2 linked regions of the Homo sapiens genome follow. The gene in region 1 interacts genetically with each later gene. Each region holds a gene or a part of one and is shown in the gene's direction. Other genes may lie near its edges.

Region 1 (3,785 bases):
CTTCCACTTCTGGGGCCACCTCTGGATCCCGTTCAGAAAACCACTTTATTGCAATGCAGAGGTTGAGAGGAGGACTTGGTTGATGTTTAAAGAGAAGTTCCCAGCCAAGGGCCTCGGGGAGCGTTCTAAATATGAATGAATGGGATATTTTGAAATGAACTTTGTCAGTGTTGCCTCTTGCAATGCCTCAGTAGCATCTCAGTGGTGTGTGAAGTTTGGAGATAGATGGATAAGGGAATAATAGGCCACAGAAGGTGAACTTTGTGCTTCAAGGACATTGGTGAGAGTCCAACAGACACAATTTATACTGCGACAGAACTTCAGCATTGTAATTATGTAAATAACTCTAACCAAGGCTGTGTTTAGATTGTATTAACTATCTTCTTTGGACTTCTGAAGAGACCACTCAATCCATCCATGTACTTCCCTCTTGAAACCTGATGTCAGCTGCTGTTGAACTTTTTAAAGAAGTGCATGAAAAACCATTTTTGAACCTTAAAAGGTACTGGTACTATAGCATTTTGCTATCTTTTTTAGTGTTAAAGAGATAAAGAATAATAATTAACCAACCTTGTTTAATAGATTTGGGTCATTTAGAAGCCTGACAACTCATTTTCATATTGTAATCTATGTTTATAATACTACTACTGTTATCAGTAATGCTAAATGTGTAATAATGTAACATGATTTCCCTCCAGAGAAAGCACAATTTAAAACAATCCTTACTAAGTAGGTGATGAGTTTGACAGTTTTTGACATTTATATTAAATAACATGTTTCTCTATAAAGTATGGTAATAGCTTTAGTGAATTAAATTTAGTTGAGCATAGAGAACAAAGTAAAAGTAGTGTTGTCCAGGAAGTCAGAATTTTTAACTGTACTGAATAGGTTCCCCAATCCATCGTATTAAAAAACAATTAACTGCCCTCTGAAATAATGGGATTAGAAACAAACAAAACTCTTAAGTCCTAAAAGTTCTCAATGTAGAGGCATAAACCTGTGCTGAACATAACTTCTCATGTATATTACCCAATGGAAAATATAATGATCAGCAAAAAGACTGGATTTGCAGAAGTTTTTTTTTTTTTTTTCTTCATGCCTGATGAAAGCTTTGGCGACCCCAATATATGTATTTTTTGAATCTATGAACCTGAAAAGGGTCAGAAGGATGCCCAGACATCAGCCTCCTTCTTTCACCCCTTACCCCAAAGAGAAAGAGTTTGAAACTCGAGACCATAAAGATATTCTTTAGTGGAGGCTGGATGTGCATTAGCCTGGATCCTCAGTTCTCAAATGTGTGTGGCAGCCAGGATGACTAGATCCTGGGTTTCCATCCTTGAGATTCTGAAGTATGAAGTCTGAGGGAAACCAGAGTCTGTATTTTTCTAAACTCCCTGGCTGTTCTGATCGGCCAGTTTTCGGAAACACTGACTTAGGTTTCAGGAAGTTGCCATGGGAAACAAATAATTTGAACTTTGGAACAGGGTTGGCATTCAACCACGCAGGAAGCCTACTATTTAAATCCTTGGCTTCAGGTTAGTGACATTTAATGCCATCTAGCTAGCAATTGCGACCTTAATTTAACTTTCCAGTCTTAGCTGAGGCTGAGAAAGCTAAAGTTTGGTTTTGACAGGTTTTCCAAAAGTAAAGATGCTACTTCCCACTGTATGGGGGAGATTGAACTTTCCCCGTCTCCCGTCTTCTGCCTCCCACTCCATACCCCGCCAAGGAAAGGCATGTACAAAAATTATGCAATTCAGTGTTCCAAGTCTCTGTGTAACCAGCTCAGTGTTTTGGTGGAAAAAACATTTTAAGTTTTACTGATAATTTGAGGTTAGATGGGAGGATGAATTGTCACATCTATCCACACTGTCAAACAGGTTGGTGTGGGTTCATTGGCATTCTTTGCAATACTGCTTAATTGCTGATACCATATGAATGAAACATGGGCTGTGATTACTGCAATCACTGTGCTATCGGCAGATGATGCTTTGGAAGATGCAGAAGCAATAATAAAGTACTTGACTACCTACTGGTGTAATCTCAATGCAAGCCCCAACTTTCTTATCCAACTTTTTCATAGTAAGTGCGAAGACTGAGCCAGATTGGCCAATTAAAAACGAAAACCTGACTAGGTTCTGTAGAGCCAATTAGACTTGAAATACGTTTGTGTTTCTAGAATCACAGCTCAAGCATTCTGTTTATCGCTCACTCTCCCTTGTACAGCCTTATTTTGTTGGTGCTTTGCATTTTGATATTGCTGTGAGCCTTGCATGACATCATGAGGCCGGATGAAACTTCTCAGTCCAGCAGTTTCCAGTCCTAACAAATGCTCCCACCTGAATTTGTATATGACTGCATTTGTGTGTGTGTGTGTGTTTTCAGCAAATTCCAGATTTGTTTCCTTTTGGCCTCCTGCAAAGTCTCCAGAAGAAAATTTGCCAATCTTTCCTACTTTCTATTTTTATGATGACAATCAAAGCCGGCCTGAGAAACACTATTTGTGACTTTTTAAACGATTAGTGATGTCCTTAAAATGTGGTCTGCCAATCTGTACAAAATGGTCCTATTTTTGTGAAGAGGGACATAAGATAAAATGATGTTATACATCAATATGTATATATGTATTTCTATATAGACTTGGAGAATACTGCCAAAACATTTATGACAAGCTGTATCACTGCCTTCGTTTATATTTTTTTAACTGTGATAATCCCCACAGGCACATTAACTGTTGCACTTTTGAATGTCCAAAATTTATATTTTAGAAATAATAAAAAGAAAGATACTTACATGTTCCCAAAACAATGGTGTGGTGAATGTGTGAGAAAAACTAACTTGATAGGGTCTACCAATACAAAATGTATTACGAATGCCCCTGTTCATGTTTTTGTTTTAAAACGTGTAAATGAAGATCTTTATATTTCAATAAATGATATATAATTTAAAGTTATACTAAGGTTTCAGCATTTTTGTTTTTAGTTTAATCATAAGAATTAAAGCAATCCTGTTCTATTTACTTTCTTAGCAACATTTGTAGGACTCTATATTAGGCCTTTTTTTTTTTTTTCCTGAGACGGAGTTTTGCTCTTGTCATCCAGGCTGGAGTGCAGTGGCGTGATCTCAGTTCACTGCAACTTCTGCCTCCCGAGTTCAAGCAATTCTCCTGCCTCAGCCTCCCAAGTAGCTGGGATTATAGGCGCCTGCCACCATGCCTGGCTAATTTTTGTATTTTTAGTAGAGATGGGGGTTTCATCATGTTGGCCGGGCTGGTCTCGAACTCCTGACCTTAGATGATCTGCCTGCCTCGGCCTCCCAAAGTGCTGGGATTACAGGTGTGAACCACCACGCCTGGCCTTTATTAGGCTTTTGATGAACCAATAGAATATCTAAGGTTTAAGACATTATATGAGCTAGATTGTTCCACGACACAGTATTTGACTTAAAGATGATTGGCACTTGGCTCATCTTTGGTCTCATCATTTTTTTGATTGTTCATCTTTATCCTGTGGTGTTTTCTTCCCCTGCATAAGGAATACAGGACTGCAGTAACTCTGTACAACATTCAACTGTCGTAAAAGTGTAGGAAGTAAAATGTTAAATTATTTTTTTCACCGTGTCTTCTTCCCTGTCCCTGTCCTGTTTCCAAGAGGCAGAGCTGCACCACTTGGTGTGTCTTTTAAACTTCCAGTTCCCTTTGTATGCATCTGTGTATATATATTCCCATACACACATCTCTACGTTTGCTTCATATCTACCTAAATGGGTTCTCACTTTATGTAATC
Region 2 (3,832 bases), on another chromosome or scaffold:
TCAAACAAATGAAATTTCATTCTATTCATGATATTTCAGAAGCAGATCTGTTGCACAAAATAAAGCATACCTATAAATTTTCTTTTTTTAAAAAAAAGTCTCTGTTCACTCTATTTTCTATTATTTTTCTCTTTTTAAAATTTGAATTTTATTGTGGCAAGTCCACTTAACATGAGATTTACCCTCTTAACAGATTTTTATGTGTAAAATACAATATTGTTCACCATGGGTAAATGTTGCACAGCAGATCTCTGGAACTTATTCATTTTGCACTACTGAAATTTTATACCTGTTGATTAGTATCTCCCCATTTCCCTCTCTCCCCTGTCCTGTTACCCATGGTTCTGTTCTTTGCTTCTTTGAGTTTGAGTATTTTGATACCTCATGTAATCTTCATTCTATTTTCTAACTTTGACAATGTTCTGACAAATTTGCTTTCCGGATTGGAGCACTGTATAGTGAAAATTGAAAATCTTGGTTATTTTCTACAGATTCCCACTATTTTACCTTGAGCAGACACTTATCTTGAAGGGTCTCAGATTTGTCACTTGTAGAATGGGGAATATAAACCTGATAATGGTCCCTTTCAGTTCTAAAGTTATATCAGTTGAAAATACATGTGTCACTTATGGTAACGGGTAGAGAACTGGCTCACTGAACAGCATATGGATATTATAAAGTGGTTTTTTTTAATCCTTTCTGCAGACAGTTACTTTATACTTTATTCAAATGGATTATTGTGAAGTACATGTTAGCGGACTTTGTACCTTTTAAAAATGTATGTATTTGGTGTAATGTAGAAATATAGAAATTTATTAAGTATGATTTATTTCAATGTTAAGCATGAGAAAATATGCTCCGAAAGGTTAGATAGCTTGCCTAAATGACAAGCTTGTATTTCAAGCAGAACTTTCTGAATCAAAAGACTCCAAGACGAATGCCCAGCTTTCAAAAACTGTCTAACCAAAATAAATCCTAAGATTCACCTTCATACTAAAATTATTTAAAAATAGTTTATTTTAAATTAATATTCACTTAAAATGTATTTATCATGCAATACTTTAAAGTGTCTGGGAAATGAAAATATCCAAAGATCAAAGAACACCATGTTTTCAAACTTCAAAAATGTTATCAGTGACCTAAACAATTTTTAAAATTTTCATAGAGCCTATGAAAAATGTACTTGCAAATGGCTACTTTCTGACTAGGAATAGAATGGGGAGAGTATTTAGTCCAACAATGATAGACTGGATTAAGAAAATGTGGCACATATACACCATGGAACACTATGCAGCCATAAAAAATGATGAGTTCATGTCCTTTGTAGGGACATGGATGAAATTGGAAAACATCATTCTCAGTAAACTATCGCAAGAACAAAAAACCAAACACCGCATATTCTCACTCATAGGTGGGAATTGAACAATGAGATCACATGGACACAGGAAGGGGAATATCACACTCTGGGGACTGTTGTGGGGTGGGGGGAGGGGGGAGGGATAGCACTGGGAGATATACCTAATGCTAGATGACGAGTTAGTGGGTGCAGTGCACCAGCATGGCACATGTATACATATGTAACTAACCTGCACAATGTGCACATGTACCCTAAAACTTAAAGTATAATAAAAAAAATAAAAAAAAGTTTGAGGTGTTTAAAGTATGCAAAAAAAAAAAAAGAAATAAATCACTGACACACTTTGTCCACTTTGCAATGTGAAAATGTTTACTCACCAACATGTTTTCTTTGATCTTACAGTTGTTATTAATTGTGATTGGAGCTATAGCAGTTGTCGCAGTTTTACAACCCTACATCTTTGTTGCAACAGTGCCAGTGATAGTGGCTTTTATTATGTTGAGAGCATATTTCCTCCAAACCTCACAGCAACTCAAACAACTGGAATCTGAAGGTATGACAGTGAATGTGCGATACTCATCTTGTAAAAAAGCTATAAGAGCTATTTGAGATTCTTTATTGTTAATCTACTTAAAAAAAATTCTGCTTTTAAACTTTTACATCATATAACAATAATTTTTTTCTACATGCATGTGTATATAAAAGGAAACTATATTACAAAGTACACATGGATTTTTTTTCTTAATTAATGACCATGTGACTTCATTTTGGTTTTAAAATAGGTATATAGAATCTTACCACAGTTGGTGTACAGGACATTCATTTATAATAAACTTATATCAGTCAAATTAAACAAGGATAGTGCTGCTATTACTAAAGGTTTCTCTGGGTTCCCAAATGATACTTGACCAAATTTGTCCCTTTGGCTTGTTGTCTTCAGACACCCTTTCTTCATGTGTTGGAGCTGCCATTTCGTGTGCCCCCAAACTCTACTTGAGCTGTTAGGGAATCACATTTTGCAGTGACAGCCTTAGTGTGGGTGCATTTTCAGGCAATACTTTTTCAGTATATTTCTGCTTTGTAGATTATTAGCTAAATCAAGTCACATAAACTTCCTTAATTTAGATACTTGAAAAAATTGTCTTAAAAGAAAATTTTTTTAGTAAGAATTAATTTAGAATTAGCCAGAAAACTCCCAGTGGTAGCCAAGAAAGAGGAATAAATATTGGTGGTAATTTTTTAAGTTCCCATCTCTGGTAGCCAAGTAAAAAAAGAGGGTAACTCATTAATAAAATAACAAATCATATCTATTCAAAGAATGGCACCAGTGTGAAAAAAAGCTTTTTAACCAATGACATTTGTGATATGATTATTCTAATTTAGTCTTTTTCAGGTACAAGATATTATGAAATTACATTTTGTGTTTATGTTATTTGCAATGTTTTCTATGGAAATATTTCACAGGCAGGAGTCCAATTTTCACTCATCTTGTTACAAGCTTAAAAGGACTATGGACACTTCGTGCCTTCGGACGGCAGCCTTACTTTGAAACTCTGTTCCACAAAGCTCTGAATTTACATACTGCCAACTGGTTCTTGTACCTGTCAACACTGCGCTGGTTCCAAATGAGAATAGAAATGATTTTTGTCATCTTCTTCATTGCTGTTACCTTCATTTCCATTTTAACAACAGGTACTATGAACTCATTAACTTTAGCTAAGCATTTAAGTAAAAAATTTTCAATGAATAAAATGCTGCATTCTATAGGTTATCAATTTTTGATATCTTTAGAGTTTAGTAATTAACAAATTTGTTGGTTTATTATTGAACAAGTGATTTCTTTGAATTTCCATTGTTTTATTGTTAAACAAATAATTTCCTTGAAATCGGATATATATATATATATGTATATATATATATATATATATATATATATACATATATATATATAGTATTATCCCTGTTTTCACAGTTTTAAAAACCGATGCACACAGATTGTCAGATAGCAATTCTGTGATTGAAGGGGAAATATGTCACCTCTTCATACTCATATTGGTGAAGGGTCCTAGCTTCAAAATTAATAGATTCCTAAAGAGGGGAAATGAAACATCCGCATTTACACACACACACACACACACACACACAGAGTTCCTCTTGTCGGTAAGTTTTGTTTTTTTTAAATCTCTACTAGATAAAATTTGTTATCTAATTGTGAGTTTTACACAAAGAAAAACTGTCACAGAAAAGAAAGACAGTGTCACATTTTTCAAAAGAAAAAGAAGAAAAGAAAGTGCCATGTTTTTCAAATACAAATGTTCTGGATTGATTTTAGGATCTTTAGTGAAAAACAAAGTATTTCATAATAAGTAAAATAAAAATCTATGTAGGTAAATTTGTTTCTCTAATTTAAGAATTTGAATTTCTGAGTATTTATGATAAGTGTTGAAATAACTTCTTATATGTGACAGTGAATAC

What was found.
Region 2: changes in PDGFRA (region 1) and CFTR together harm fitness more than expected from each alone (negative genetic interaction), as found in Homo sapiens cells (one study listed by BioGRID).

The regions. Positions count from the first base shown.
Region 1 is NC_000004.12:54,295,293-54,299,077, forward strand, and holds the end of PDGFRA (platelet-derived growth factor receptor alpha isoform 1 precursor), read left to right. Parts: 3' UTR 1-2,953; downstream 2,954-3,785. UniProt on the Homo sapiens protein: Tyrosine-protein kinase that acts as a cell-surface receptor for PDGFA, PDGFB and PDGFC and plays an essential role in the regulation of embryonic development, cell proliferation, survival and chemotaxis.
Region 2 is NC_000007.14:117,608,760-117,612,591, forward strand, and holds part of CFTR (cystic fibrosis transmembrane conductance regulator), read left to right. Parts: intron 1-1,759; coding exon 1,760-1,910; intron 1,911-2,821; coding exon 2,822-3,049; intron 3,050-3,832. UniProt on the Homo sapiens protein: Epithelial ion channel that plays an important role in the regulation of epithelial ion and water transport and fluid homeostasis. Mediates the transport of chloride ions across the cell membrane.